Linked DNA regions of Homo sapiens. The protein of the gene in region 3 purifies or fractionates together with the protein of the main gene of each other region. This does not show direct contact. Each region holds a gene or a part of one and is shown on either strand. Other genes may lie near its edges.

Region 1 (7,976 bases), on a different chromosome or scaffold from region 3:
CCTTCTCAAATAAAACAGTTCTCGGCACATCTACTTATCTTCTCACACAAGATACCATATTCCCTTACTACTCAATTAGGTCCCACTTCTTCCAATAAGTTCTTCTTAATTGACTCAGCTACCAGTGACTCACATGGCACTCGCACCCATCATACCACACTGACTTAGTCATTGAGTCAACACTATTTATCTCCCAACCACTGGACACTTCTTACACAAAACTACTTATCTTTTTATGTGTATATCTTGTCTCTCTGACTCCTTAATGACAGAAAGACATTGTGTGTTCATCTATCTATAAGTTCTTTAATACTTTTTGAGCTTTGAACCAAGTGAATACATGAAGTATTCAAAAAAAACTCTAGCAATGTGTCCTGCACATAGAAAGGGCTTCTAGTATGAGAAAAGTTGCCAGAAAACGTGTAATTACGATTGAGTGTGCTAGATGCTATGATGAGGATAAGCAGAGAGATGAGGCCCCTAACCCAGCATTTAGGGGAGGGCAAGTCAGAAAAGCCTTCCTGGGAAGAGGTAAAGGGACAGAGTCCCAAAGACCCACAGGGAAACAGATAAAAAGTTAGTGGAAATAGTGAGAAATCGAGAATTAAGCTGGGCTTTACAGCACAGAGTCTCACCTGTGTTTGGCTGGAGGGTGGTTTAAGAACTTTAAGGCAAGAAAGGCAGGAGCATCTAAGGTGAGTTTTGAGGTCAAGTTCGGAGGGAACATTCTGTTTTTCTAATTTAGCCTTGACTGCTTAACCTATAGACCGGATCTAGTCATTTTCCTTCCTCAACAACCTTCCATCAAGCTTTTCCTGTACTGTGATGGAGCAATCTCGTAATAGGTATAAATAAACAAACAAAAAGAACTATCCGGTACATGGTCTGCTATCATTTATGTAAAAAAGGAACAAAATAAAAACATACACAGTCGTTTTACGTATATAAAACATCTCTGGAAAGATACCCAAAAAACTAATAATGTCTGTCACAAAGAGAACTAACTAGGGGACTGGAGGATGGGGTGGAAGTGAGACTTCTCACTACATGCTCTGCAATACTTTCGGGGCTTTGAACCAGAGGAATATATCAGGTATTCAAAAAACTTAAATACTTGCCTTCCCCAATAAAAGCCTTTCTAACTTCCCCACCACCATACTTTTTAGCATGGTGTTCAAGGCAAATCTTACCACTTTCATCTCATGTCTGATTATAACTTTTCTTTTTTCTTTTTTTTTTAGATGGAGTCTTGCTCTGTCGCCCAGATTGGGGTGCAATCTTGGCTCAGTGCAACCTCTGCCTCCAGGTTCCAGTGGTTCTCCTGTTTCAGCCTCTCAAGTAGCTGGGATTACAAGCATGCGCCGCCACACTCAGCTAGGTTTTTTTGCATTTTTAGTAGAGATGGGGTTTTACCATGTTGGCCAGGCTAGTCTCGAACTCCTGACTTCAAGTGAACTGTTCACCTCAGCCTCCCAAAGTGCTGGATTACATGCATGAGCCACCTTGGCCACCCGATTATAACCTTTCACACATCCTTTGATCCAAGTACTCTACTTTTCTCACCTTTAGGCAAGATTTGGAGTGGTGTCTGTAAAACAGTGGCTTCCAAAATGTTTTGACCCAAAGCCACAGTAGGAAATCTAATGTCACAATCCATCATACATAAATTTATGTAACTAAAATAAAATCTTCACGAACCTACACATCATTACTCTATGTGATGCATTCTGATATTTGCTATTTCATTTCTTTTTAAAAAATGCTGGTCACGAACTATTAATTTCATGAACCTATTAGAACATAAGTAACTTAGGGTAGGTACTTATGCTCTCTTACTAGTACTAAGTGCTTTCCATAACCCCAAGGTATCAGTCCAGTTTTGGACACAGTAAGCAGTCATGGATTGAACAAGGAATGACTGTTTACTAAGTACTCTTCATCCTATTACATGCTGGGATGGAAACAGGAATAAGAAGGTGTTTGAGATAAGCTCTATTTTACTCTAGATCTTTGAAAAGCACTTTTACAAATATATTCTTTTAAATATTATGTATTTATTATTTATGTATTTTTACATATTATGCATTGTTTTATTTAAATATTATGTATTATTTATGTATTTTTACATATTATGCATTACGTATTTATTATTTACACTAATAAAACACTTTGGGAATCTCTGGAAGTAACCTCTTGCCTCACAAACAACTATTTGTAATAAACAGATTCTAGATAACTGCAACCTCTGCCTCCTGGGTTCAACCGATTCTCATGCCTTAGCCTTCCCAGTAGCTCGGATTACAGACACGTGCCACCACACCTGGCTGAATTTTGTATTTTTGGTAGAGACTGGGTTTCACCATGTTGGCCAAGCTGGTCTTGAATGCCTGACCTCAGGTGATCCGCCCACCTTGGCCTCCCAAAGTGTTGGGATTTCAGGCGTCAGCCACCGCACCCAGCCTTACAAGTCTTTTTAATAAAACTATCTTTTTATTTAAGCTCCCACTAATTACCAGTAAATATGCTGCCTTAAATCCTTTGAAGGTACTTAGGTATAAAATACAGGCATTCTAGCAAGCTTCTAACCCTTATTCTTCCAAATCCCAGCCCTTCCCCTCCAAAATCCACAGGATACATAAAAAATGTGTCTTTCTTCACAAGGATGAGCTAAAAAAAAGTGTCTGAAAAAAAAACACAGTCAAAAAATATATATAAACGTGTAGCAAATGACATATGCAAATATTTACTGAACAACAGACAATAAAAAAGATACTGAATTTCCACCAGGGTGTTGAACTCTGGTCACTGGTCTAAGGAGTGGAGTCTTAGTTTTCGAGCTATGTTTACAGATAGTAAGTAAAGCACATAACAAAAAATTCAACAACTGATATAGCAATAAGATCTACATTATCTCTCTTTTTATGTCAAGTAAATATGGCTAAGATACTCTAAGTATTCAAAAACTAAGAATCTGTTTAAAGGAAACCAACTATACAATGAAACCTAAACTCCTTTTCTTTTTACTTCCAGTAAACAGGACTTAAATAAGACTGAAAATTATCAAGGACTAAGAATTTGTAAGTGCACATTTTAAAATTTTTTATTATTTAATAATCTATTGTATATTTCAAAATAACAAAGAGTAGAATTTTAGTTGTACATTTTAAAAAACAGCAACAATAGTACTGATTAACGATTCAGTAAAAAGAGAAATACATAATACATAATAGACTAAGCTTTAAGACATCAACAGGGTGACAAAAGTTACACAGACTCCAACAGCTAGTCATCAACAATGCTAAGAATCTAACTGCTTTCTTAATAATCACTGACTGCTTAAGCAACCAGATTTTACAATTGATAATAACCTATACTATTTGATTCTAGTCCTGTGGTCATCTACTCTATAAATGAATCGTTAATAGAAAGGTTCATCATTTAAGGTTTATTTCACAAAAAGGTAACTACAGTTCCCATTATTAATAATAAATAAAATTATTTTCATCAGAATTGAAGTATGGCCTAGGCTTGACTTTAAAAATAGCTAGAGATTTATAGGAAAGATAAATGTTACACGCTCCTGTACAAACTTCCAGCATCTCCAAAAAAGGTAGCTGATCTTAAACACTGTAGTAGGCCAGACATGGTGGTTCATGCCTGTAAGCCTGGCACTTTGGGAGGCCAAGGCGGGATGACTGCTTGAGGCCAGGAGTTCGAGAACAGCCTGGGCAACATAGCAAGACCCCCATATCTCTATTTAAACAAAACAAAACAAAACACTGCGGCTACTCATACAAAAGTTGAGAACATGAGCTCATAATAGGATTATGAAAATAATCCTATTTAAAATATTACTTATTAATAGTAAAAAAACTCACACCAAAACCAAAATTCCAACTGTATGATACCACATGTGAAAACAAGACACATTCTTTTTAAGCGTAGAGGGACACTGTTCCTAGAGAGTTCCTGTCTTTTTCTATTATTTTTTCAATTTCGCTAATGGTGTCTACTGAAGCACATTTGGAATGTAATCTATTTATCAGACAGCTGCTCTGGCCCAGTGTAGATTTAGAATTTAAAATCGTGTGGCTTCAGAGCTCTAAAATAAAATGTAATTTTAAAATAAAGATTTCTTTTCTAAAGACTCAAATATCTACTATCATTGATGACACATACCAATATATAGCAGGAACTGTGATAATTACTTTTTTGCAATATTTCATTTACGTCTAAAAAACCCTACCATATAGGTAGCCGTTAGTCTCACCATCTTGTAAATGAGGAAACCAAGACTTAGAGAAGTAACTCGCCCAAAGTTATATGATGAGTGACAGATTTGTAACCTAAGGCAGGCTGGACAGCTCAAAAGTCAGTGCATTTAATCAGTCTTATTTGCAGTCAATTAAAAACAAGCACGCAAACAAACAAAACAGTCAAATGAAAACATTAATCACTGCCTCACACCCACAGGATCTCAAGGTTGTCAAGGAAAGATAATTTTAAAACTCAGGTCCAATTCTAATTTAAAATTACTTTAAAAAGACAATGTTTGCTTACTGCAAGTGTACTTAGAACAGCATGTTCTTTTATAGAAATTAAAAACTTAGTAGGCAGTACATGCAACCCACACTAGGGACTTCCATACTTAAAGCTTTAAAGCAAAATGTTTTTTCATGCAGAAGTAAGTTCTAAGCAGATATATGCCAGTAAGTGTTTACCTCAGAGAAAGAGGGTGGGACAGGGGTTTGGAGAACTTTTGTATAACTACATATTTCCACATTATTTCAATTTTAGAAGAGTACTTTTTCTTATGTTTTTATTTCCCACTCAGGTAGATTGAGAGAGTACTTCTAATTACGTTTCAATGAGTCAAAATCAAACAAGCACCTGAAGTCCAGATTATATGAAATAGCTTTACCTCCTTTATCCTCCTGTTTGAACTTGAACATCTCAAAATAATCTTTCTGAGAACAATCCAAAGGAACATTTATAAAATTAAGGTCAAAAACAGTAAAAGAGCTAAAAACCAATGCTTTTGAATTCATTATAGCAAAAGCAGTAAGGTATTATGAAAAATGCAAACAGTGAAGTTATAAGACTTGTGACTAGGCTAAAGAAATGCAACTGAACAACAGCAGGTAAAACTTACGAAGTACAAGAAAACAAAAACAAGAGATGCAAGCTCTATGCTCTTGAAAGAAAAAGATTTAACAGAATCAATGTATCAGGAAAAGTATTTTCAAATCAAAAGCTCTGGAAAAATATTCAAGGTAAAGTAAATAGGGTTAATTAATAACCACAATAAACATTTGTTACAAATATGGAATATATAAAATATTATTGAAATTAAATATGCTGTATACCAGCATATCCAAATAAACACCATATACTATCCAAATAAACACCACTTATGCATGCACAGATAAAAATACTACTAAAATTATAAAGAGCTTTTTCCCTAAAGTAAAACAATTTAATTGTTTCAAACACTGCACTACAGTGGTATTCAAAGTACCAGGGTATATTAGTGAGGTGGTACAGGAGTAAAAGTGCAATGAACTAGAAATCCAGCATCTCAGTTTGAGTTGCCCCTGCTCTGCCAATATGTGACTCTGGGCAGGTTATTCAACTTCTCTGAGACTCAGTCTCCTCATCAATAAAGTGGGGATAGGCCAGGCGCGGTGGCTCACACCTGTAATCCCAGCACCTTGGGAGGTGGAGGCGGGTGGATCACTTGAGGTCAGGAGTTCGAGATCAGCCCGGCCAACATGGTGAAACCCTGTCTCTACTAAAAATACAAAAACTAGCAGGGCGTGGTGGCAGGCGCCTGTAATTCCACCTACTTGGGAAGCTGAGGCAAGAGGATCACTTGAGCCCGGGAGGTGGAGGTTGCAGTGAGCCGAGATCACGCCACTGCACTCCAGCCTGAGTGACATAGCAAGACTCCATCTCAAAAAAAAAAAAAAAAAAAAGTGGGGATAGTAACTACTACCCTACGTACCCCAGAAAGGGTTTCCATAATGCTTATATGAGATAATACGAGATGAATCCCCTTTGCAGGCTGTCATGGACACCACAAAGAAAAAATATTGGACCACATGCTCTCTTAAGGCCTTTCCAAGTCAGTTTCATATTTTGGCTTTTATTGTTGTACATTTTAAGAGACGCATATATAATACGCCAAAAGAGCCATATGAAATGGGCTTATTCTTAAGTAATAGCTTAGTACTACAACTACTAGCCGACATTTGCATAGCATTATAATGCTTATAATGTTACACGGCATTATTACTATGTGTTGTGCACTGATTTGAGTATTTTGCGTGTACTAATTTTCACAGCAACAGAAACTGGTGATCTCAATTGTCATACTACAAGTGAAGAAGCTATAATGTGGCTTGTAAAAAAGTTTGACTCGTGATACCATCTTATATTTGTAAGATTATAGTGCCTGGAGGCGTTTTCCACAAATATCTTATTTGATTCTTATCAGCAACCTTGTGAGACAGGTAGGGCAAACTATTATTTCCTCTACTTTAGAGAGGAGGAAATTTAAATTGAGAGTGACGGCTGGGTTTGGTAGCTCATGCCTGTAATCTCAGCACCTTGGGAGGTTGAGGTGACAAGACTGCTGTAGCCCTGGAGTTCAAGACCAGCCTGGGCAACATAGCAAGACCCCTATCTCTTAAAAAAACAGGAAAAAAAACTGAGAGGGCTTTAGTACCTGGCCCAAGATTATGAGGGTAACAGCAGTCAAAACTAGATCCCAAACCCATCTTCTGACTCCTAATCCAGGTTTACCCATCACCATACTAGCTCTGCAACTAAAATATACAAATACTGATAAATAAAACCAACATAATTTCTTACAAGGTACTCATCAATACAAAAATTCAAGCTATTGTACTCTGAAGTATATATATATTTTTTTTTTTTTTTGAGATGGAGTTTCACTCTTGTTGCCCAGGCTGGAGTGCAATGGTGCAATCTCGGCTCACCGCAACCTCTACCTCCTGGGTTCAAGCGATTCTCCTGCCTCAGCCTCCTGAGTAGCTGGGATTACAGGCATGCACCACATTGCCTGGCTAATTTTGTATTTTTAGTAGAGACGGGGTTTCTCCATGTTGGTCAGGCTGGTCTCGAACTCCTGACCTCAGGTGATCTGCCAGCCTTGGCCTCCCAAAGTGCTGGGATTACAGGTGTGAGCCACCGTGCCCGGCCTGAAGTATCTTTTAACACCAAATCCCTGACACTCTAATGAAAGTAACTTCTTGAATTGGTTGTGTGTCAAATACACAGTAGGGAAAAATTTCTTGGTAGCAAGGGATTGCCCTTAGGAACTGCCCTTAAAATTATATTTAAGTGTAAGGACCCATTTGCTAAGTAAAGAATCTGAACCTCAGACTAAGCTGCTGGACTACAAACTGCTACTCATTTCTGGGCTAAGGTGCGTCTTGTAGCCCAGGTATTAGAAAAATGTAAAGAGCAAGAAAAAGAAATGGCAAAGTCTACTATTAAGAAGGAGGTAGAATAAAGGATATGAATAATATCTGCATGTCTTGAGGCCTTTCCTATGGGTAGGTAACACAACTAAGAAACAATTATCACAATAGAATGACATGTCACCAGAAATCATCTTTGGGATTCATGCTATAGGATTACATTATAGGTAGAACTTCTATTACACCAAGGTACACGTAACTGTAATTTCTTATCAGGAGGGTCAAATATAAGCACAACTTATACTGGTATGACTGTACCCATGGTTTATGTGAGAATACGTGGTCTAATTATAGAGTTCATCAATTAATGGAGAAACTAAAATTAGAAGGGAACCAAAAGTCTACTTAAGAACCTATTTCAGAAAGCAAAATCCATATACATCCCACCTCAATTTATGTTAATCAAATCTGGTTATGCATATTAATACATACCTGGTAGAGTTCTTCTAAATTGTACTTAATTGAAGTACT
Region 2 (7,791 bases), on a different chromosome or scaffold from region 3:
GGTTCACGTGAGTAGTAACACACACCTGGCACTTCTTAAGCACTTCTTTGACTGTGTTACAATTAAGGACTCAATTTACAAGGATAAATTGTTAACTTAGAAAGTTCAAATTCCTTAGAGCTTGGCATTCAAGCTCCTCCACATGTTCCTAATCTACCTTTTCAATCATAATTCCCACTGTTGCCAGGACTGAACCCTCTGCTCTAGTTAAATTGGATGCTCACTACCTCCTGAGCATGTTTATCTTTTCACCTGGATACCTTACTCTTTAGATCTACGCTGTTCTTTATAGTAGCCACTAGTCACATATGGCTATCGAGTACTTGAAGTGTGGCCAGTCTAAACTGAGATGTGCTGTTAGATACACCTAGATTTCAAAAATGTAGTAAAAATAATCAATCTTTAAATATTACATATTGGAACATTAATATTCTGGACATAGATGAAATAAAACACATTAAAACTACTTTCACTTCTTTTTACTTTGGCTACTAGAAAATGTAAAATTTATCTATGGCTTGCATTATATTTTATTTTTTTACTTTTTGAGACAGGGTCACACTGTCACCCATGAGGGAGTGCAGTGGCACAATCACAGCTCACTGCAACCGCCACCTTCCCTGGCACAGGTGATCCTCCCACCTCAGCATCCCAAGCAGCTGGGACTACAGGTGAATGCCACACCTGGATTATTTGTTTATATTTTTTGTAGAGATGGGGTTTTGCCATGTTGCCCAGGCTGGTCTTGAACTTCTGAGCTCAAGTGATCCACCTGCCTCGGATTCCCAAAGTGCTAGGATTACAGGCATGAGCCACCACACCCAGTCGCATTTTATCTTTAGTGGACAGTACTCCACTAGATTGTTGGCCAAGGCAGTACTGGGCCCACCATTCAAACCCATATTTGTACTTTCTTGCTAGAGTAATAGTGATGAATGAAGGGAAAATTCTGAGTAACACTGGGTTCACACATTTGAGGCAAGCAAGCCGTGTCTCATCAAATAGAAGCTGCTATCACTGATCAGCTAGCAGCTCAAGGAGGAAGACTGCCAAAGGCAGCAGGACAATTATTAATAATAATTTGTGGTACACAGCAACTGTTCAGTAAGTGTTAGATAACTCCTTTTAGGCAGTGACACTAAATACAAACAAAATCTTGAATCCCATACTTATCCCTCCTGTTTTTCTTCTTCCACTTCTAGTCACTAAAATTTAGCTATTCTGGCCGGGCGTGGTGGCTCACGCCTGTAATCCCAGCACTTTGGGAGGCCGAGGTGGGCAGATCACGAGGTCGGGAGATTGAGACCATCCTGGCTAACACGGTGAAACCCCGTCTCTACTAAAAAATACAAAAAATTAGCTTGGCGTGGTGGCGGGTGCCTGTAGTCCCGGCTACTCGCGAGGCTGAAGCAGGAGAACGGCGTGAACCTGGGAGGTGGAGCTTGCAGTGAGCCGAGTTTCCGCCACTGCACTCCAGACTGGGCGACAGACCGAGACTCCGTCTCAAAACAAACAAACAAAAAAAACAAACAACAAAAGAATTTAGCTATTCCTATGACATGCTTTCACTTCTATTCCTTTTCTCCCAATCCTCAGCTAATCAGTCTTGTCACCTTGCTTTTGAAAATATAGTTTTCAAATAGCTCCTAGCTTCCTTCTACCCTCCGTGTTCATTCCATTCTATATACTGTTAATAATGTCCCATGATACTTCTTTGCAGATGTAATTCTTTGCTCAAAACCTCCATTTTCATATGAACTTCATCAAAAATTTTCACTTAGCATTCAAGGCTTTTCAAACCTTGTCTCTTGGTACTCCTCTCCATAAAAAAAGACTTTAGGGAAACTAGATTGAGTTAATATATGTAAAGCACTTAGAACCATGCCTGGCCCATACTAAGAAATATATAGGTCTTAGCTATTATTATTATTGCTCACTTTTATTTGAATATGCTGTATGCATTTCAACTCCAGAACACTGCTAATTCCCTTTTCCTATTTGAGTACCTCAATCTCTAAAGGAAGGAGTGATTTAAACTATCAATGACCAGCAAGAGCCAATTGTTACTGCTGGAAAGACAACTTAAATATTCTTTCTACAATAGATAGGACCTGCAAACAAGGAACCCTAATTTACCACCAAATAACAAAATTTAAGGCTGGATGAAATAAATAAAAGATAATATTTTTTCCTTCATTCAAGAAACAGCAAATTTATGGAATGTGTTATTTAAAGAAAAAGAAAAAACCTGAAAAACATAAATGGGTTCTGGATTTAGGGCAGTTACTCTCTAACCCTGGCATATATTAGAATAACCTGGGTGCTTAAAAAACACAGTTGCCTGGGCCCAATCCCAGATTTATTGAAGGGGAAGGCCTCAGACACTTTAATTATTTTAATGCTTCATAGGTGACTCTCATGTGCAACCACATCTGACCATCATTGGTTTGGTCATGTTTGGCATATAGTTTTCTTATGTTTTTAAAATAAAGCACACTAAGAGAACTGATTAACCTACAATGACTTATGTGTTTATGAAGTGTTCTAAAAAACCATACAAAAACCAAAGAAACAAGAAAACAAACCTTTTCAACTTGATGTAGGGTTCAGAAGATACATACATTCCAAATACCACAGTAAGCATTCATCTGAAAGTTTGCCGGTTGGTCTTTCTATTAATTAAAAAAATTCAAAACAGAATACAGATTTAACTATGTACAATATTTACAACTTACAGATTTTACAACGAAATTATACAGTTAAGTCTGTCGTGGAAATGTTGGCATTTTGGTATATAACACTTCAGAAATTTCAAAAACAACTTTACCTCAAAAACATGTTACACAAATTTTCCAAAGTGCTGTAGCTCACTGGCTCATTTTATCTCAACAATCCAGTTTAGCAATCCAGGTACCCAAATCTTGAGGCATGAAGTAACCGCTATACTACTGAGAGACAGCACTTTTTATACAACAGCAGAGGCTGTTAGAAACCTTGGGTCTTTAAAACCCTATAACAATGCCCCTTTCACCCTCCAATCCTGAGACAACAAATCCTGTAGTTCCCCCTCATCATCGCTGTCAGCATTCTCTTCTTCCTTTTTCTGCAGTTCTTTTATGGTCAGGATTTCTTTAAGTTTATTTTTTATTTCATCCTGGCGATTCCGTAGCTTTTCCACCCGTCGGTAACACTCTATCTGCTCATCGATCTCCCCAATCTGGCGGTCCAACCGTCCCTCCTCATCCTCTTCGGCAACTATGGCTTCGGAAATAGTGTTGACCTGCCTCATGGCTTTTTGGAATTCGTCCCACTCTTTGTCCATCTGATCTTTTGGAGCATCAACCTTTCGTACTCTTGCATCTACCTCAGGGTCGTCAAAAAAACCTTCCGGTAACGCTTCCGCGGTGTTTTCTCTCCTTTCCACCACTTTTTCATGTATTTCTGCTTTCTCAATTGACCCTGAATGAGGAATTATGGGGGCCTTGGGAGGATTAGTACTAAAGAAATCGTTTGGCAGCACACTACTTGTTACCTCCCGTGAAGAGGAAACTGAGTGCTCCTTGCCCTGTGCGTCGGAGAGCGGCTTGCTGGCGTCCCCCCTTTTTCTTTCTCCATCTCCTTCCTCCTCCTCTTCCTCCTCCTCCTCATCTTCATAATCGGGGAGTAAACTGAGTCCTGAAGGCTTACTGGGAGTCGCTCTAATGAACTCCTTTCCTATTTTGTCAAAGTTGGTGGTCCACGCAGATGTGGAGGGCTGTACCTGAGGCACCAAGGTGGCCTTCGCTCTCTTGACATCTTGGTCGTCTGCGTCCGGCGCTTTCCTCTTGACGGAATGAGGCGCTGAACTGGCGGACGAACCCTGGCTGGCTTCCTTCGCGCCTTTCAGCTCGGCCACTTTCTCTCGGTGCTGCTTTCCCAGGACGTGAGTCTGCCACAGGAGCTCGCTCTTAACCGGAGTGTTACACAGGGCACAACTCAGCTGCCCCAAACGGTTGTACTTCGCGAATGGAGATTCTATCCGTTTCCGACTGGTGCTCAGACGCTGCTTCTCCTTCATTAACCGCCGCAATTCTTCCTGATTTATCACTCGCTTCCCTGCCGGAGTCCGGGCGGAGGCGGAGGACGCCATCTTGGCGACCAGACCCAAAACGATTCTGGTTTCCGTCGGGCGAGGCATGATAACGTCACTTCCTGTAAGGGCGATGATTGGCCGAGGCTCAAGAGAGCGTGGCGTCGCATTGCCGTTTTTGCTCAGAATCGCGACTAAGGCTTTTTTTTTTTCTCCCTCTGAACGGTTAGGCTATGGCTGCGATAAAGGCCGTCAACTCCAAGGCTGAGGTGGCGCGGGCCCGGGCAGCTTTGGCTGTCAATATATGCGCCGCCCGAGGGCTGCAGGATGTGCTGCGGACCAACTTGGGTCCTAAAGGCACCATGAAAATGTGAGACAGCGGTTGGAGCGGCCATTACGCGGCTAGGGGCCCGTTGGTGTCCTGTCGCCCTCTGAGGCAGGCGTCCGCGTAGCGCTGTGGATGTTCTTGCGAGCTTGATTTCCCTCATTCTCATCCCTGCTCTGGGGGTATTTCTCGCCTGGTGCAGGTGGAGGAGAAAAGCCTCCCCTAGTAGAGGGCCCCGGGAGTGAAGCTGTGGCGCTTCCCCGACCCCCGACTTGTCGTCAAGGTTCATATGCAGTTAGAAAGTCAGTTAATTTAGTGTCTCATTGGAAACAAAGCATTTAACTCCTCTGCTCCTTAAGACTGTATACCCTTGGTCCATAAATTCAACAAGTAGTTTTGTTTTTTGTATGGCAATGTATTGTAGTGGAGAGGACACAGGCTTTGGAGCCAGGAAGGCATGGGGTCAAATCCAAGTTCTACTTGAATACCCCGTGTCTATGGTTGTTCAGATCTATTCATCTTTTCAGTATATATTAAGCACCCTTTTCTATAGACAAGAGTGAGGAAAAGAGACCAGTGAGGGCAAAAGGGTATAAGAGGAGAGACACATCCTCATAGTAATGAACAAAATAATATTAATGGTAAAATAAGTCACTTAGGTACCAGTTGTTGGGACACAGAAATGATCAAGATAACGGTTTCTGTTCTTAAGGAGATGTGGTAGAGACGGATGTGGTAGAGTAGGATGTGCTAATTATATATAGATGCATATAATTATGCTGAAGAAAGGGACTGATGGCAGAAGGAAAAGCATCTTAAGTAACATGTTTGATCAGTCTTGAAAGAAGAATAAGACTTCACTAGTTGGAAGAGGGAGTAAAGGCCTGGGCAAAGTAATTTCAGGAATAAGAAAGACCAATGGTGCAAATCCAACAGAAACGAAACAAAACATGGTATATTAAGGGAACCAGAAGATTTGCTTGTGGAAAAGTAGATGAGGCAGGGAAGATATTGGGAAAGGTCAAGTATGTCATTGCTGTGTTTGGATTTTAACTTGAAAATGATGGAAAACATAAAAATCATTGGAGGACTTTTGATCAGGGAACTGACTGAATCACGTTGCCTTTTAGAAAGAAAAATGTGTGGAGGGTATATTTAAGTTTGGAGATATCCGGATGCCATCCAAAGTAGAGATGATAACAGTGGAGATGGAGAGAAGGTGGCAGATTCAAGAGATATTTAGGTAGTAGAATTGATAGAACTTGGTGATCTAATAAATGCAGGGATGAGGGAAACTAAGTTGAGTGACTGAATGAATGAAAACATTCACCAAAATTAAAACCTGCAGGAAATTTGCGAATTTGTGCTTTGTAGACTTCCAAGTATTCTTTGACCAAACCACAGTTCGTAACTCATCAAGTGCTTTTATCTTTAAACCTGTAAATAGTCCATTTGGAATGAAATCTCCATAATCTGTCCATCTGGGGAGAAATGATTCTGTGAGCTGCAAATGGTGGTAATTACCATGGCATATTCCCATGGTACAGTGGAAGTTTTCCGAGCCCAGTTCCCTCTATTAAGGATAATGGAGTGGCAAGCACTGGGAATGTCTTCCTACCACATGAAGTTAATATCATTCTTCTCTGAACAGGCTTGTTTCTGGTGCAGGTGACATCAAACTCACCAAAGATGGCAATGTGCTGCTCGATGAGATGGTGAGCTGATGCTGCTGACTTTAATAAACCTTAATAAGCCTTAATTAGAAGCATAGTAGAACTTGTGTATCTTTAAGCCAAGGCTGTGAGCTAAATACTGCAGTCTTGAGATATGCTGAAGACTGTTGAATTAGACCTCAATAAAAAAATTTTTTTGGCCGGGTGTGGTAGCTCACTCCTGTAATCCCAACACTTTGGGAGGCTGAGGTGGCCAAATTGCTTGAGCCCAGGAGTTCAAGACCAGGCTGGGCAACATGGTGAAAACCGTCTCTACAAAAAAAAAAAAAAAAAAAAATTTTGCTCAGTGTGGTGACATACGCCTATAGTCCCAGCTACTCTGGAGGCTGAGGTGAGAGGATCACTTGAGCCCAGGAGGCCAAGGCTGCAGTGAATGAGATTGTGCCATTGCACTCCAGCCTGAGTGGCAGAGTGAAACCCTGTCTCAAAAAAAAAAAAAAAAAAAGTTTTTTTTTTTGGCTGTTTCCAAGTCTTTGTATACTTATACATACTTTGTATACTTAGGCATACTTATAAATCAATAATATCTTTTAAGGGCACTGCCTTATGTTCTTTGTAATTATGGAAAAATAAAAATATCCTTTGCAAGTTTAATACATGTATTCATTTTGAGATTGAATGATTTAATCTTATTTTAGAAATGTCATTGCATTCTGAAGCAAAGACTTTTATGAAATGTTCAGGCCTCATTACCTGTCACTTTTAAAATTTTGGACTTGACATTTAGGTATTGATAATACAAAACTTGTAAACTTGTAGAATGAAGCTTATTTCATTTTTTAATTTTGCTACTGACCCCTAGGTTATCTTGCTTTTGGTGACCTACTTCCTTATCTCATCCTGTCTTTTTAAATCTGTTGCTTGCTTTTTCCAGCAAATTCAACATCCAACAGCTTCCTTGATAGCAAAAGTAGCAACAGCTCAGGATGACGTCACAGGAGATGGTACTACTTCAAATGTTCTAATTATTGGAGAGTTATTAAAACAAGCTGACCTGTACATTTCTGAGGTATTAGAATTTCACAGTTTATATGTTATTTTGAATGGCAAATTATTTTTTTAACTAGTAAAATGGTTGAGTTTTAGACAGTTAATTTTGTTTTAATTAATTAATTAATTAATTTTGAGATGGAGTCTCACTGTGTCGCCCAGGCTGGAGTGCAGTGGCAGAATCTTGGCTCACTGCAACCTCCGCCTCCCAGGTTCAATCAATTCTCCTGCTTCAGCTTCCCGAGTAGCTGGGATTACAGGCATGCGCCATCATGCCTGGCTAATGTTTGTATTTTTTTTAGAGACAGGGTTTCACCATCATGGCCAGCCTGGTCTTGAGCTCCTGACCTCAGGTGATCCACCTGCCTGGGCCTCCCAGAGTGCTGGGATTACAGGCATGAGCCACCGTGCCTGGTCTAGACAGTTAATTTTAATTAAGATATTCTTGGACAATTATAAATGGAAATAATAATGAACTTTGTTGGCCAAAATAATGCCTTTCGTTGGAATTATATACCTCTTTTAAAAATGAAATATTTAACGGACCTAAAAAAGTAAAAAATTACCCATGTATCCATGGGTAATTAAGAAAGAAAACACCATAGATAAAGTTGAAACCAAATTATGCACCTTTATAAAACCACTGGAGAAAAATTATTGAAGGTTTTACTTAT
Region 3 (8,452 bases):
CTGCTATAAACAAAAATTGTACTAGAATAATGAATGAAAACAATACATAATCATTGCTTTATTTGCACTTATTTTATTTGCAAGTGAGGGTAAACAGATTCGCAAGTTACGTAGTCATTACATTTTCTTTTGTCAACTGCCCATAGCTGCTTTTGGACTTTTTTAAAAAAAATTACATCCGCAGCTAGTTCTTATTGAATGCTTACAATGTAAAAGGGACAATGTATACATCCTTTAAACCAATATCTACTTTATGATTTAGTTTTATTATCTAAGACATTTTACAAAGAAATAACAAGTACAGCTTACACAGTTTCCCCTGTCACACATCAAGTATCAAAAACTAATTTAACTGATTTCAAAAATCTATGCACCTAACCACTCTTTTGTATCTTCTCTATTGACCTATTCCTCTATCAATATGTAATATTACATTAACCTCATTTATGTCCTGACATCACCTCTAATCTACAGAATGGACATTTTAATAGTTGCCTAAAACTCAGCATTATTCTCTTCACCTAAAATTTTTTCACCTCAAATCCTCCCCATTTTAGTAAATGACACCAACCATCCACCAGTCCTAAAGTTAACAAAAAAGCTGCAATCTTTATGCTGTCTTTCACTTTCTAGATTACTCTCATCAGCAAATCTTACTAATACTACCTTCGAATGATCTTCCAATGCAATCATTTCTGATTTTTCTGATTATTTCTACTTCTCATAGTCAGGTCCAAGCCACAATCATTCCCTTTCCTGACCAACCTACAACAGTGTACTGTTTTCATATTTTTATTTTTGAGGTATTATATAAAGTGTGAAGTGTATAGACATACAAAATATGTATGTATCAAGGATCAAGAAAAAGAAAACAGCATTTCTAAAGTTTCCCCGTGTTACTTTCCAAACAATATCCTAAAAATAAAAGGGAAAAAAACAAACAATATCCTTTCTTCCTTCCACAGAGATACCTACTATTCAAACTGTAATCACCATAGATAAGTTTTTAGTGCTTTGGAACTTTAGAACTGAATCAGTTTGTACTCATTTCTACCTACATTTACAATCAACATGTTGAGATTAATCCACAGTTTCATATAGCAATTGTGCCTTATTTTATATTATGCTTTATCCAATTGTATGACTACAGCACAAATTATTTATCAATTTTAGCATATTGTAAAGTGAGATCATTTCCAGGCTTTGGCTATTAAGAAGTAGCCACTAACTTTATTACACGTTTTTTTGTTTTTTGTTTTTTTTGTCTTTTCTAGCTTATTGTTGGTAGAAAAACAGGCTAACACTTTGAATAAACATCTCACAAACTGCTGCTCCTAGATTACAAAAAGTCAAAGCCAATTATCTTTGACACTGAGCCCTTGAATCCTGACATTCAAGTCACAATAATAGAAACCGGAGCTGCTGTACCTTACATTCTGGAAGATGCCTCAACAAAAGCACGTTAAGGACTGTTTAAAACTTCTATTATTTAAAAAGATCCACCTTTCCTCCCATTGCCTATGGAAAATAATAAAAGGAGAATCTCAGAGATCTGCTATTGAGTTTGAGAAGGCCAAGTTTAATGATTCCAAAATGTAGCCTTAAAAACTTCTGGAGAGACTCAGATAAATGACCTCCCCCTCCTCTCCTCTCCCACTGGCCTCTTCAAGTACAGATGATGCATGTATTTCCGGAACCCAGGTAGGACTAGTCAAACAGTCTCATGCTTCTCTAAAAGGCTTCTGGTGTAAGCAGTTTTAATTTATTTTAGTTTTTGCCAATCTTCAGTCCTTAGAAAAGTGTTTTTTTGTTAAAAAAAAAAAAAAAGGGGGGGATAACTATTCTAAGGTATTCAACAAGAAAAGGAAATAGTTATCTTTTATGAAAAGGACTTTCAAGCTCTCTCAGCCCAGTTTAACTGAAACAACTTTACAGAACTATCTTCACATAAAACAGCACCTTACCCCTAGCAGCCGGATGGATGGGATCTACAAACACCGAACATCTCTTAAAATGCGCTCATAGAAACGGTAATACGATGCTCTTTACTTCTTTAAGTCAAATCCACGTTCCTCCGGGCTGCATCCTGAAGAATTAACCGTAGGAGAAACAATAAAGGTCCTCCCGGACAGCCATGAGCAGCCCTGGTGCTCCTCGGAAGCCCCCGAGGCGAGAAGAGAAGGCCACACTGGGAATGTCGTTCTCCGAGGCGGGGTATGGGGAGGGTATGGTTGTGAGCAGGTGGCCATGACGGAGGCTCCAGATTCTCGTGTAGCAGTCCTGGCCCACGGCCGCCACGACTCCTTCTTCTTCGTTCACATGCACGGGTAGGTAGGCGGAGTTATTCACATGACCTTCGTACTGTGTTACACATTTAGTGGCCCTCAAGTCCCACAGCTTGATAGTTCCAGTCATGTCTGATGACACCAGGAATTGGCCATCTTGGAGGATTTGCAGAGAAGTCACTGCTGAATCATGGGACAGGCAAATGGCCTTCCACCCGCTGCCTTGATTTCCACAGCGCAGATCAATGCCAAAGATCTCCCCAGAGCGACAGCCATTAAACAGCAAAGGAGTCATGATTGCAAACTGCTGGGCCAAGACATCACTGCTAGTCCCAAATGACTGCTGGTGTCCCGTCACCACGTTGGTCAACAGGACCTGCTGAGACAAGCCTGTACTGAAAGAGTGATACGCGTGGATGCTCAGGGACCAGGCACAGGACCAGGCATCAGGGATCTGGAAACTGCAAAGCATGCCAGGCCGACGCATTCCTGGGAAGCTACCTATGAACAGCGACGCTGGGAGCAGCACGGCACAGCTTGGAGTATCTGCAAGTCCCACGAAGCACAGCAGAAGGTGGGAATCCAAGTGATTCAGTGAGGCCCAGCACATAGAATTCACCTTCCGATTAGGGACGTAGAGGGTTTTGTGCGGGTATACCCGGAGCTCAGGGGTCGTCAGGCCTCGCATGGTGATGATGCCGTACTTGGAGCCTCCAGCTTCGACTTGGTTCACTGTGAAGAGCTGGTCAGTGTTGGTATTCGCCAGTATGCGGTTAAATCGGTCGCTTGCCAAAGAGGAGGGATCCCAGCTATGAATCTGGACCTTTTTCCTCTGCATGCAGCTTACACGCAGCTCGCGAGCTATACGGCAATAGTTGGCGAATCTGAGGAAACCTAGCTGGTTCTTTCGTAGCATGGAAGGTGCATTGAGTCCCACTCTGACTGTCTTTTTCTGCTTGTCTGCTTCCTCGAGCAGTCGCGGTCTTTTGCTCTCCATTTCGTTCGGCGGATGTTCTCCCTCCTGAGGGGAAGTTCTGTCCCGGGAGTAAGAGGAAGTACCGCTTCTTTACAAGCACGACTTGGCACGGAAGAACTTCCCGCTGCGCCTGCGCCTGTGCGTATGAGGTCGACCCGGACGAGATTCTTCGTCGCCTTGGCCCAAATCCCGAATGCTCTGAGGTGCCCTGACATAACTCTCGTTAGAATCGCGTGATCTGAAACAAGAGTTCCGCTGCTTCTCTCGAGTTTTCCCCTACTCAGACAGCTGCTTTTATTCATTTCTATTCCTGTTTAGAGATTCTTTTCCGACCCCTCTTACACACGTCATAATAGCTGTATGCATACATTTCTCTTATTTACTAAGAAGTGAAATTGGCCCAGCACTTTGGGAGGCCGAGGTGGGCGTATTACGAGGTCAGGAGTTCGAGACCAGCCTGGCCAATATGGTGAAACCCTGTCTCTACTAAAAATACAAAAATGAGCCGGGCATGGTGGCGCGCGCCTGTAGTCCCAGCTACTCGGGAGGCTAAAGCAGAAGAATCGCTTGAACGCAGGAGGCGAAGGTTGCAGTGAGCCGAGATAGCCCCACTGCACTTCAGCCTGGGCGACAAAGGGAGACACCGTCTCAAAAAAAAAAAATTTGAAAGTGGAGGGTTATTAGGTAGACATATATAGCTTAAGTAGATATTGACAAACCAATTACACTCTTGTCAAAATATGGCTTAAGTAGATATTGACAAACCAATTACACTCTTGTCAAAAGTGTATATATATCCTTGCCAATTCTTGTTGGTCAGTTTACATTTTAGATATAAATAATTTATAATTGTTTTTGTCTTCCTGTTGAAAGATTGCCATTATTATTATAAAATATTCCTTTTTAACTTTTATTTATTGATTGACTTTATTTTATTTTTGTGAGATGGAGTCGCGCTCTGTCGCCCAGGCTGGACTGCAGTGGCGTGATCTCGATTCACTGCAAGCTCCGCCTCCCGGGTTCACGCCATTCTCCTGCCTCAGCCTCCTGAGTAGCTGAGACTACAGGCGCCTGCCACCATGCCTGGCTAATTTTTTGTATTTTTAGTAGGGATGGAGTTTCACCATGTTAGCCAGGATGGTCTTGATATCCTGACCTTGTGATCCACCTGCCTTGGCCTCCCAAAGTGCTGGGATTACAGGCATGAGCCACTGCGCCCGACCAACTTTTATTTATTTTATTTTATTTTATTTTATTTTATTTTACTTTATTTTATTTTTTGAGACGGAGTCTCGCTCGTCACCCAGGCTGGAGTGCAATGGCTCTATCTCAGCTCGCTGCAAGCTCCACCTCCCGGGTTCAGGCCATTCTCCTGCCTCAGCCTCCCAAGTAGCTGGGACTACAGGCTCCGCCACCATGCCCGGCTAATTTTTTTGTATTTTTGGTAGAGATGGGGTTTCACCATCTTAGCCAGAATGGTCTCGATCTCCTGATCTGGTGATACACCCGCCTCAGCCTCCCAAAGTGCTGGGATTACAGGCTTGAGCCACCGCGCCTGGCCCAACTTTAATTTTTTTAAATCTGTGTTCTCTGATATTAAAGTATCCTTATCCTTAAACCCTTCTTGTCTAATATTTATATATGCAACCAAGATTTCTGGTTGATAGTGTTTGCTGTACCTTTTCTCACCTTTTACTTTCAACTTAAATTTGTTCTATTATGTAAATGGGTTCATATAAACAATACATTGCTGGTAAGTTTTTATCCAGTATAATAATTTTTACCTTTGAATGTGAGTGTCTAGGCAATTTAATGTTTTAACTAACCCCTTTAAAAATTCTTGAACAGTCTTAGATTTACAGGGAAATTACAAAGATAGTATAGAGCCTTCCCACATACTCTGCACCCAGTTTCCATATTATTAACATTTTACGCTAGAATGATAAATACATTGCACTAATAAACCAATATTGATACTTTATTAACTGAAGTCCATATTTTATTCATATTTCCTTAGTTTTTATCCAGTGGCCTGTTCCTGTTCAAGGATCCCATCCATGATATAATATTAATTATGTTCCCTTGTGCTTCTCTTGGCCATGACCTTTTCTTAGATTTTCCTTACTTTTTATATACATGACAGCATTGAGGCATATTGGTCACATATCTTATAGATGTCTCTCAATAGAGAGTTGTCTGATGTTTTTCCCATATTAACACTGGGATTTTATGTTTTTGGAAGAAGACAACAGAGGAAAATGCCATCCCATTAAGGGTGCAGACTATGGACATGACTTATTGTCATTGATGTTAACTTTGGTCACCTGAATAAGGTAGTGTTTCTTGGGTTTCTCCACTGTATGCTGTAAACATCTCCCTCTCTTTTCATACTGTACCCTTTGAAAGGAAGTAGCTTTGCATATCTATCACTTTAGGAGTAGGGATTTATGCTTTAGTTTCTTGAGGGCAGAACATGCACATCAATTATTAGGAATTATTCTATAAGGGAGATTTTTCTAGGTGTGTCTTTATTAATCTATCCATTTATTTATATAGTATGGCCTCTTGAATATTTATTTTATACTTCATTTATTTATTTGCTAAAATTGTTCCAGCTTTGGCTATTGAGAGCTCTTATGGCTCCTGTGATTGACTGCCTATAGTTAACTGCATGGTTAGCTGTACTCTAAAAGCTTGAGACCACTTGACACCAGAGCCCTTATCTTAGACTTAAATATGTGATTAAAAATTATAATCATTTTCTTACAGCTTTGATTTTGATGTACTGTATATTGCATCATTCCAAAAAAATAGACTTTGGATGTGGAAATATTTGAAGAAGAAATTGAGATTTTTTTTTAATGATAACAATTTGTATTAATAATATCTGAGAACTACCATATATTCTTAGGATTTGTAGAATCCCCAGGTAGGGTATCAAGAAGTAGAAGTAAAAGCCTTAACCATTAAATATATTTTTTTCTTGTAAATTTTTTATTTTTTTATTTCAATAGTTTTGGGGGAACAGGTGGTGTTTGGTTACATGAATAAGTTCTTTAGCGGTGATTTCTGGAATTTTGGTGCACCCATCATCTGAGCAGTGTACACTGTCCCCAGTGTATAGTCTTTTGTCCCTCGCCACCTTTGATTTTGATTTACTATATATTTTGTCATTCCAAAAAATAGATTTTGGATGTGGAAATATTTGAAGAAGAAATGGAGATTTCTAAAAACCAAACAGACACACCCACATAACTTTTGGAATGGCAAAAAAAAAAAAATGGTGATAATATGGAGTAACGCAAACTCTCATTGCTGGTAAGGATATAAAATGGTACAGCCACCTTGGAAAACAGTTTGGCAGTTTCTTAGAAAACTAAACATATTCTCACCATATGATCCAGCAATCATGCTCCTTCATATTTACCCAAAGGAATTGAAAATTTGTATTCACACAAAAACATCCACACGGATGTTTACAGCAACTTTATTCATAATTGCCAAAACTTAGAAGCAAACAAGATGTCCTTCAGTAGATGGAAGGATAAATAACAGTAGTACATCCAGGCAATGGAATATTATTCAGCACTAAAAATAAATGAGTTATGAAACCATGAAAAGACATGGAGAAAAGTTAAATGAATATTACCAAGTGAAAGAAGCCAATCTGAAAAGGCTAAATACTGTAAGATTCCAACTACATGACATTCTGTAAATGGAGAAACTATGGAGGTAGTAAAAAGGTCAGTGATTGCTAGCAATTAGAGGGCATATAAGAGAAAAGTATTTTTCTTATCTTGGTATAAAGCACAAATATAAAATGTTTATAGGGTATGAGGAGACTAACAATATCTTCTGAAGAATTATGGACAGCAGAGTCATTAATATTTGAAAATATCATTGAGGAACATCAGAATCCCTTTATAAATTTTTTCTACTTAATACTGAAACCAGAAAAGCATAGATCTTTTAAAATCTAGATATTTACTTAATTATGATGTTTATTTTTAATGAGGTGTTCTGAGTGTTAAAGGTGGTTTTAATTGTATTATCAGTCAGGCTGCAGGGAAAAAAAAACCTGGAACCTCACTTAATTTCTGCCAAAACACTGTCTTCAATTTTATAAGCTAATAATTTAGGAGAAGGGATGATAATCCTTATATGAAACAACACAGTTGCTTGAGTAGCCCGCCATTCATTTATCCTTGGCAAGACAAGGCAGGCTTCATAATCTTAAAAACTCATTTGAATGTACTGAATGAGCATCAAATTGCTTTAAGCGGGCTGTCCTGTTACAGCATAGATATATGAGCTTTCAGCTGTGTCCTTTATCCTGAGATACAGTTTGAACTGTCTTTGAAGAAATGTCCTTTTCTAATAAAACTTAAGTCCAAACTTACATTTCATTGTTCTCTTTCTCACATAATGTACTTTCTTTTAATATAATTCTAGCAGATGGATAGCATTTTTGTTATATTAATATCAATGAGTATGTTCATATAAACACATAAATAAAAATTTATAAGCATACACCTAAAGCCCAAAAGAAGAAAGGTAATTCATAAGATAAATATAAAATCCTGTGTGAGTGACTGCCTTCATTTAGCCAAAAAACATAACATGAAGAGTTGAATATATCGAAAGCTTAGATTGAGATTATATTTTGGCAGCATTAAATATATGCACCAGAATGTACACATTTTGTATATTGACTAAATAACCCTTGAATATTTTACTCAATCTAGAATTCTTTTTCTCATCTTGAGTATACTAAAATTGCTCTTATTGTCTATACTTGATTTTTGGTCAAAATATGAATCACTGTGACCTAGAAGAAAGAGAATTTTTTTTTTTTCAGATGGCGTCTCACTCTGTTGCCCAGGCTGGAGTTCAGTGGCACCACCTCAGCTCACTGCAACGTCTGCCTCCCGGGTTCAAGCGATTCTCCTGCTGCAGCCTCCAGAGTAGCTGGGATTACAGGTGCCTGCCACCATGCCCAGCTAATTTTTGTATTTTTAGTAGAGATGGCATTTCACCATGTTGGCCAGGCTGGTCTTGAACTCCTGACTTCAGGTGATCCTCCTGCCTCAGCCTCCCAAAGTGCTGAGATTACAGGCATGAGCCACTGCGCCTGTCCAGAAGAAAAGAGATTTAATTTTGAATCAAGAGACTCAATTTTGAATTCTACATC
Region 4 (8,455 bases), on a different chromosome or scaffold from region 3:
CAGAGCTGGCAGCAAGAGGCCAGTGGCCGCACGGCGGGGGAGGAGGTGCCCAGCTGGCCAGGGCGCCTTCCCAGGGCCTCTGACATGCTGCCAGTGCCCAGTAAGGGCTGCCCCAGCATCCACCCTACCCAGGGTGGGCGGGAGCCAGGCTCTCACTCCATCCCCTCCCCTCCAGGACCAGGGATCAGGCAGACCCTGGGCTGCTTCACAGCCCCCATGGAAGGTTCTGGGTCTCACACAATGACCAGAGGAGAAGGACCAGGCCTAGACAGAGCCCCTCTGCTCCTACCCTCTCCTGAAATACACCCTAACCCTCCGGAGAGAGGGGTGGGGCAGGGCAGCCTGGCAGTGACCCCAGAGAAGTGTTGACAACCACCTGCACTCTGATTACCACAGAGCCAGGACTCACGCTAGGCCCAGCCCACGGCAGCTCCCTAAACCGCCGTGCCAGCCCATCTCACCTGAGGAAACTGAGGCTCCAGAAGGCTAGGAAGCAGCTGCCCAAGGTCACAGAGGCAAGAGGAGCCAACCCAGAGCAAGAAAAAACCAGGTGTTACTATCACATTTGGGATTAAGTTTAAAAAAAAAAGGAAAGAAAAAACAGGAGTGTCAGACGCCCAAGCCCATGGCTTTTGAGTCACTCCCACTGAGCGCGGGCTACCCACCCGCTCCCACCGACCTGCTCCCGCCGACCCGCTCCCATGGACCCGCTCCCACTGACCCACTCCCACTCAGCGCAGCCCACCCACCCCCTCCCGAGGGGCCCGGCAGCACCCACAGGTAGGCTGCACCTGCCTCCTCGTCCAGGCCTCAGCCTCTACTCGGGGGGGGGGGAGCAGAACTATCCCAGTCACAGCACTCCCCAAGGCCTCTACACCCTTGGGCCAATACTCCCTCCTCTCATAGTCCAGGAGCACCTCTGAGGATGTGAGCTTTAGGGGAGGGGAAAAGGAGGTCTTCTGCAGAGCGGGAGAGCCGTGCCCCAACAGCACTCTGCATACACGCAAACTCAGATGCTAGTGAAGAGACAAAGCACACCCTTGCCCCGGCCTGGAGGCGCCGGGAGCTCAAAGGCGGCAGAGAGGAGGAACTAGAAAAGAAACTTAGGCCTCCCAGAGGACCTGTGTGCTGCCCAAGCCAGGCACAATCTCACTCAGAAGACTGTGCCAGGGCCAGGCCACGCCCCAGCCAAGGCCTCAGCAAGTGAGGCTCCAGCAGGAAGTAGGGTCCGAAAAGGTGCATCACCCGTCCCGGGAGCCCAGGGCTTCAGGGAAAGGCAATGGGGCGGGCAGGCGGCCTATGGAAGAACCTACAGACCAGGCACCTGTTTGCCTCCTTCCTGTCCCACCCAGGCCAGAGGCAGGCGTTCAGGGCCTGAGGACAGTTCAGAGTTCCTCAGGCTGCTCTCCCCACATCCCATCCAAGATCCTGTTGCGGAGCTCCCATAAGCCCCTAGACTCCTTCCCCAGCTGCCAGCCTCCTCCTCCTCCCCCTCTGGGCCTCAACTCCAGGGAGCCCTCCCCTGGGCAGAAGGAACCTGACGCACCACTGTGGACCTGAAAAACCTGCCTGTTCTCTTAACCCCTAAAAGCCGCTGTATTCCCAGGAAGGTAACCAACCCTTGCCCCCGACCCTCAATGGCCTAGATCAGCTCCTTCCTAAGGGGGCTGAAGAGCCTTCCAGAGCTGGATCTCAGAGGTCAGAAGCCTTGGTTCTGATGCTCAGGTGGGCCCCAGCTGGGGGGTCTTCATTAAGGCTCCTTCCTTCTTTCAATAGATCCGGGCTGGCTGTAACGTAAGTCCTAGCTAGCTGTACTACCTTCCCAGGGACGTAGGAGCCCATGTCCTGCCCACGAGTATGCTCCCAGTTTCCCCAAAACAAATAGCTGTGCCCTTCCCTGACTCAGTTTACCCCCGACAGAGCCCCCCCACCCCCAGCAGAGTTAGGAAGGGGCTTCACTGACTCCCTCACAGAAATCCTCCAACAGACGCTCGTCAGCCCCCTAGTTCTCAGCACGGGATCCAAACCAACACGCCTGTCCCAGCTTCCTCTGGGCCAGGCCACGGCAGCCTTGGCTTGCTGGCCATGAGCTGGAATCCAAACACTTCCCTTAACAGCTAAATCGCTGTGTGACCTTGGGCAAGTCACTTCGACTCTTCGGGTCTCTGCTAGAGGGGAAATCAGCCAACCTCCTCTCATCCAGCCTGCCCCCACTGATTCAGAGCCACATCAGCACAAAGCCTGGTAGGTTGGGGCGATGAGCATCTGCTCTTCTGCCCAAACCTTGGCCTTGTCTAGACAATCAGCAGTACTGCCCCAGCACCTGTCCCTCACCCCAAGGCAACTCCGCTATGATGGGAACAGGGTCAGAGGGCTGAACGCTGTCCCCATCCTGATTCCCAAGTCAGCCCTGGCGCACTCACTGAAGCTAGGAAGGGAGATGATGAGGCGTTAAGACCACAAGTCCCAACTGAGGACAGTCGACGGAGGAGGGAGGGACTGGGGGACAGGAGTAGCTCTGCACCTCCACTGCCACCCAGAGCAAAGAGGGCCTGAGGAAGATGACGACTGAGGGCCTGGGAAGGGGATTCCAGCCCCAAGGCTGGAGTCTGAGACACGGTGGAGGGAACAGAAGGAAGAGAAGGGGCTCAGGAGAAAGGGAAAGCAGGCCCCACCCGAGACAAGCTGCAGCCACTGCCACAGTCACCACCATACAGCCCCCATGGGGGATCGCTGGGAGCTTGACTCCACACTAACGACCTTTGCCTTAAAAACAGCAACTCTGGTCTGACCCACTTTTCGCAATAAGGCAGGTTAATGATCAAGTTCTGGCACAAACACTTCCCCCTGCCAAGGAGTTTGGCTCTGCCCCATGCAAAGGCAGACGCCCCCTACACCAGGTCGGCCGAGCAGGCCAACACACCTGAGAGTCTCCGCCACAGCCTGAAGACCTGCGGTTATAGCCTGGCCTCAGGGCATGAACCAGGGACGCCCCTCACAACGCACACCCCGCACCTCGTGCTCTTCCCACAAACCAAGCCTGGGAAGCCTCGAGCGGAGCTTCACTCCCAGGGCTGCAGCCCTGCGCACAGGGGATGCCTGGGAGGCCGCCGCGGAGCAGGTGCCGAAGGGGGCTGTCCCGCAAACGTCGGAGCGACCCCAGCTCAGAGAGCTCCCATGCTCGGGCGCAGAGGGGGTGGGGCCGCCGATTCTTTCGGTCTGCGGCGGCGGCGCACCCCGAAACCGCGTGTGCGCGCACGTGTCCCCGCGATGAGGCGCGCGTGTGCCCGCCGAGGGTGCCAGCCGAGGCTGCCCTCCACGGGACCGCACGTGCGAAACCCGGGCCGCAGCCGGGGGCGACTGTGAAGGTGACCTTCAGCGCGGGGGCGACCCGGTGAAGGCCCCAGCGAGATACAACCGGGCCCGACGCGGAGGGAAGGCGGCGATCCCCGCGGAGTCCCGAACCCGCCCGCCCTGGTCCGGCGCCCCCCGCCCAGCGGCCCGCTGGCCCTGGCCCCGCTCACCGGCCGCGCCCGGCCGCCCCTTGCCCCCGGCCTGCGAGCCGTGTTCCCGGGCGCTGTCGGCCGGGGCGGCCGCCGGCAACTCGTCCGTCTTGATAACCATGGTGGCGGGAGCGGGCGTCCGCCTCGGCTGTCCGCGCCGCCCGCCGCGCCACTAACCCAAGTGCCCTGCGCGCCGCGGCTGCTGAGGGAAGGACGGAGTCACCGGCCCACGTGGTGCGCGCCGTGGCCTTTGACCCCGCCGCCGTTTCCCTGCCCCACCCTCGCGCCCGGCCCAGCCCACGGCGGCCCGCGAGGGACAAAACGCGCCGCGCCTGGTTCCCCGCCCACGGACGCGGTGACTTTCCAGAACGTCTTAAAGGCAACGCACTCTGACTCAAGGCCCAGGGAGGCTGGGCGCCCTCGCGGGGCGGGGCCTCGGGGAGACTCCCTGCTGCTCGCTGCCCGTCGGGCGGGCACTGTGACCTTGGGTGGAGACTGGTCTGGTTCTGCCATGGCTAATCCTCCCCTCTCCAAGGATCCCCTGTTTTCTCTTGCAGATTTGCTAAATGACCGCGCAGTCTGTCATCTGCGGTGTTCGCGTGACCCTCAGCGCCCTCCCCACCCGGCAGGCCCTTTCCCGCCGAATGGGTGCGGCTGGATTATTGAGGGAGTGGAGGGTCGCTTAGGGCACGGGCACGAGAGGCGAGGGCGAGACGTGGCTAATGGGGATCAAGAGTCAGAATGGACCCGCCAAACTTTGCCCCGAGCCAGAACGGGCTCCCTACCCGCGTCCTCGACCCATGGGTCCTCACCTCCAGGCTGGTGTCCTCATTTTACAGTGGAGGAGGCCGAGACCAAGGTCACACAGAGAGCAAGGGGTAGAGCCGGGTCTGACTCCATCCACAGCCAGGACGCTTTAACTCGTATTTTTCACTTGGCAGGGGCTTGGCGGGGACGGAACGGTGAGGTCAGAGAATGCTGCAGAGGGGACATTGGGACCAGGTCTTGCAGTGAGTTGAAGTGCTCCAGGCAGAGAGCGCCGGTGGGTCTTTCCTGGCCAGGCCGCAGGGGGCCTTTGGGAAGCACCCGAGGCCTATAACCTTCGGAGCGTTTGTCAAGCTCTAATGAGAACTGGAAAGCTTCAGCTTCCCGAGGTGGGCTGGGAGGGCCTTAGGTAGGGCCTCGCACAAATTGCGAAGGAAAGCCGACCTTGTTCTGGAGAGCACGTGGTGAGGAAAGCCAGCGACTTGATGTGAGCATTTAAACGGGAGGAAGGAAGATGAGAACTGGTAAGATTCTTCTCGGCCGGGCGGTGCAGCGGCTCACGCCTGTAATCCTAGCACTTTGGGAGGCCGAAGCCAGGCGGATGACTTGAGTTCAGGATTCGGAAGTTTGAGACCAACCTGGGCAACATTTCAAAACCCCCGTCTCTACAAAAAATATTGTTTAAAAAAAGCCAGGTGTAGTGGCACGCGCCTGTAGTCCCAGCTACTTGGGAGCTGAGCTGGGAGTATCACTCAGGACGGCTCAGATTGAGCCCAGGAGTTCCAAGCTGCAGTGAGCTATGATCGCACCACTGCACTCCTGCCTGGGTGACACAGACACCGTCTCAAAAAAAAAAAAAAAAAAAAAGCCGGGCGCGGTGGCTCACGCCTGTAATTCCAGCACTTTGGGAGGCAGAGGCGGGCGGATCACGAGGTCAGGAATTAGAGACCAGCCTGGCCAAGATGGTGAAACCCCGTCTCTACTAAAAATACAAAAATTAGCTGCGCATGGTGGTGTGCGCCTGTAGTCCCAGCTACTCGGGTGGCTGAGGCAGAAGAATCGCTTGAACCCAGGAGGTGGAGGTTGCGGTGAGCCGAGATCGCGCCATTGCACTCCAGCTTGGGCAACAAGAGAGAAACTCCGTCTCAAAAAAAGAAAAAAAAAGTGTGCATATATATATATAGTGTGTGTATATATATATAGTGTGTATATATAGTGTGTATATATATAGTGTGTGTATATATATAGTGTGTATATATATAAGTGTATATATAAAATATATATATTTATAATCAATATATATAAAAGTGTGTATATATGTGTGTATATATACACATACATACTTATGTGTGCGTGTGTATATACGTATGTGTATACACACACTCGTTCCTCTTTTGTTACACAAATGTGCAGAAAATTGTACCTGCTATTCTTCACTCTGATTTTTTTTTTACACGCTTTCAGTAGGTGTTCTCATTCCATTTACGCTGGATAATGTTGTATTGTTTGGTTGTACCATAATTCTTTTAGCCGGTCACCTGACTGATGGGTACTTAGTTTGTATTCATGAAACTCCAGGGTTTTTGAGAATTGTGCCTAGTGGCCCAGTGCAGCTGAAGTTGGAAGCCCGTGCATGTTGCTAATGCTACTCATAATAGGAAGCTCAGTTTTAACCCTGGGGGTTGGGGAAGAGCAGCAAGCCTGGGGTTAGAGAAACAGACACGTATAAAAAGCATCATCCAGCCGAGTGCGGCGGCTCACGCCTGTAATGCCAACACTTTGAGAGGCCGAGGAGAGCAGATTGTATGAGCTCAGGAGTTGGACACCAGCCTGGGCAATATGGCAAAACCTCATCTCTACAAAAAATACAAAAATTAGCTGGGTGTGGTGGTGTGCGCCTATAGTCCCTGCTACTCAGGAGGCTGAGGTAGGAGGATCACTTGAGCCCAAGAGGTTGAGGCTGCAGGATCTCGCCACTGCACTCCAGCCTGGGCGACAGAGCAAGACCCTGTCTCAAAAAAAAAAAGAAAGCAAAGAAAGAAAAGAAAAGAAAAAAAAATCATCCTCTGATCACATTCTCCATAGTCTGGTGGTCTGACCTCTGACCACACATTAAGCAGACTGATTCTTGCTTTCACACAGCTTCCACCAAAGTCTTTTCATCATAGTCTTTTTTTGGGACAGCATCTCGCTGTGTAGCTCACGTTGGAGAACAGTGGCAAGATCTCAGCTCATTGCAACCCCGCCTCCCGGGTTCAAGCGATTCTCCTGCCTCAGCCTCCCTTGTAGCTGGGACTACAGGCGCCCGCCACCATGCCCGACTAATTTTTGTATTTTTAGTAGAGAGGGGGTTTCACCATGTTGGCCAGGCTGGTCTTGAACTCCTGACCTCAGGTGACCTGCCCACCTTGGCCTCCCATAGTGCTGGGATTACAGGCGTGAGCCACCGCACCCGGCCTCCATCATAGTCTTAACAGCACATACTCCCATTTTCCCCAGCTATTTCCACCATTGCCTATAACAATGTGCTATGGTTAAGGTGATCGCATAGTTTATCATTAAAACCAGAACACTTTTGAGAGTGCAAGTGGAACCTATTAATAATGACACAGGGGCAATAGGCATAAATTGAGACCCTCTTGGCCATACTGGGATGTCTGGGTCTTGGGTGAGGAGTCCAGCTGCTAGACCCGGGGACTTTGTTATTTTTTATTTTTTTTTGATATGGAGTCTTGCTCTGTCGCCCAGGCTGGAGTGCAGTGACGTGATCTCAGCTCATTGCAACCTCTACCTCCCGGATTCAAGTGATTCCCTGCCTCAGCCTCCCAAGTAGTTGGGATTACAGGCATGCGTCACCATGCCCGGCTCATTTTTGTATTTTTAGTAGAGATGGGGTTTCACCATGTTGGTCAGGCTGGCCTCGAACTTCTGACCTCGTGATCCGCCCGCCTTGGCCTCCCAAAGTGCTGGGATTACAGGCATGAGCCACCGCGCCTGGCCGACCTGGGGACTTCTTGAAGGCAAGAACCATAACTTATTTATCTGGGTGTTCCCAGCATCTTTCCAGAGCCCAATGCATGGTAGGTGTTTAATGCACATTTATTTATTTTTAATTTTATTTTTAGAGACAGGGTCTCATTCTGTTGCCCAGGCTGGAGTGCAGTGGCATGATCACGGCTCACGGAAGCCTCCAACTTATGGGCTCAAGTGACCCTCCCGTCTCAGTTCCCTGAGTAGCTGGGATTACAGGTGCACACGACCATACCCCACTTAATGCACATTTGTTGACTGAGTGAATGATTTCAGTGTAGAAGGTGCCAGGCCCTGAGGGCTCCACAGGATGTGGGGGGGCAGCATTGCTGGCAGCCTGGGGTTTCACCTTTGAGCCCCCCATTATTTATTTATTTATTTATTTTTTGAGACGGAGTTTTGCTCTTGTTGCCCAGGTTGGAGTGCAATGGCTCAATCTTGGCTGACCACAACCTCTGCCTCCCAGGTTCAAGCAATTCTCCTGCCTCAGCCTCCCCAGTAGCTGGGATTACAGGCATGCGCCACCAGGCCTGGCAAATTTTGTATTTTTAGTAGAGATGGGTTTTAGTAGGGTTTTAGTAGAGTTTAGTAGGGTTTTAGTAGAGATGGGTTTAGTAGAGGTGGTTTCTCTATGTCGGTCAGGCTGGTCTCGAACACCCGACCTCAGGTGGTCTGCCGCCTTGGCCTCCCAAAGTGCTGGGATTACAGGCGTGAGCCACTGTGCCTGGCTGAGTCCCCCATTATTTATAACAGTTGGCTTTCCTTTCAGACACTCCTTTTGTGTACTGTATGCTTTGACCTTTGTGTCTAGAACTTCAGATCATTTCCATAATGCCTGACTGAGACCCACCAGCCTGAGCCCACGGAGGATGCCAAGCGGAGGCACCTCTCCCTATCCTCCTCAGGGTCAGTGAGCGTCCGTAAGTGCCTACCGGTCAGCATGGGGATCGGTGACCAGTTTGTCCATGGGCCTAGTGACGAACCAGTCCCAGCAGCTTTAGAATCTGCAGTTTAAGGCCGGGCGCAGTGGCTCACGCCTGTAATACCAGCACTTTGGGGGCCAAGGCAGGTGGATCACCTGAGGTCAGGAGTTCAAGACCAGCCTGGACAACATGGCAAAACCCTGTCTCTACTAAAACTACAAAAATTAACCTGGT

Evidence for each region.
Region 1: the proteins of DCAF4L2 (region 3) and CUL4B purify together in Homo sapiens (affinity purification with mass spectrometry; 4 studies listed by BioGRID and IntAct, with this or other methods). This does not show direct contact.
Region 2: the proteins of DCAF4L2 (region 3) and CCT6B purify together in Homo sapiens (affinity purification with mass spectrometry; 2 studies listed by BioGRID and IntAct, with this or other methods). This does not show direct contact.
Region 4: the proteins of DCAF4L2 (region 3) and CLUH purify together in Homo sapiens (affinity purification with mass spectrometry; 4 studies listed by BioGRID and IntAct, with this or other methods). This does not show direct contact.

What each region holds. Positions count from the first base shown.
Region 1 is NC_000023.11:120,549,987-120,557,962, forward strand, and holds part of CUL4B (cullin-4B), read right to left. Parts: coding exon 7,938-7,976; intron 1-7,937.
Region 2 is NC_000017.11:34,957,905-34,965,695, reverse strand, and holds the start of CCT6B (T-complex protein 1 subunit zeta-2), read left to right. Parts: upstream 1-4,235; 5' UTR 4,236-4,302; coding exon 4,303-4,439; intron 4,440-6,045; coding exon 6,046-6,109; intron 6,110-7,001; coding exon 7,002-7,136; intron 7,137-7,791. Other genes in the region: ZNF830 (zinc finger protein 830), read right to left, coding at 3,011-4,129. UniProt on the Homo sapiens protein: Component of the chaperonin-containing T-complex (TRiC), a molecular chaperone complex that assists the folding of proteins upon ATP hydrolysis.
Region 3 is NC_000008.11:87,870,690-87,879,141, forward strand, and holds DCAF4L2 (DDB1- and CUL4-associated factor 4-like protein 2), read right to left. Parts: upstream 3,327-8,452; 5' UTR 3,283-3,326; coding exon 2,095-3,282; 3' UTR 58-2,094; downstream 1-57.
Region 4 is NC_000017.11:2,708,038-2,716,492, forward strand, and holds the start of CLUH (clustered mitochondria protein homolog), read right to left. Parts: upstream 3,728-8,455; 5' UTR 3,625-3,727; coding exon 3,525-3,624; intron 3,217-3,524; exon of another isoform or gene 3,016-3,216; intron 480-3,015; exon of another isoform or gene 462-479; intron 1-461. UniProt on the Homo sapiens protein: mRNA-binding protein involved in proper cytoplasmic distribution of mitochondria.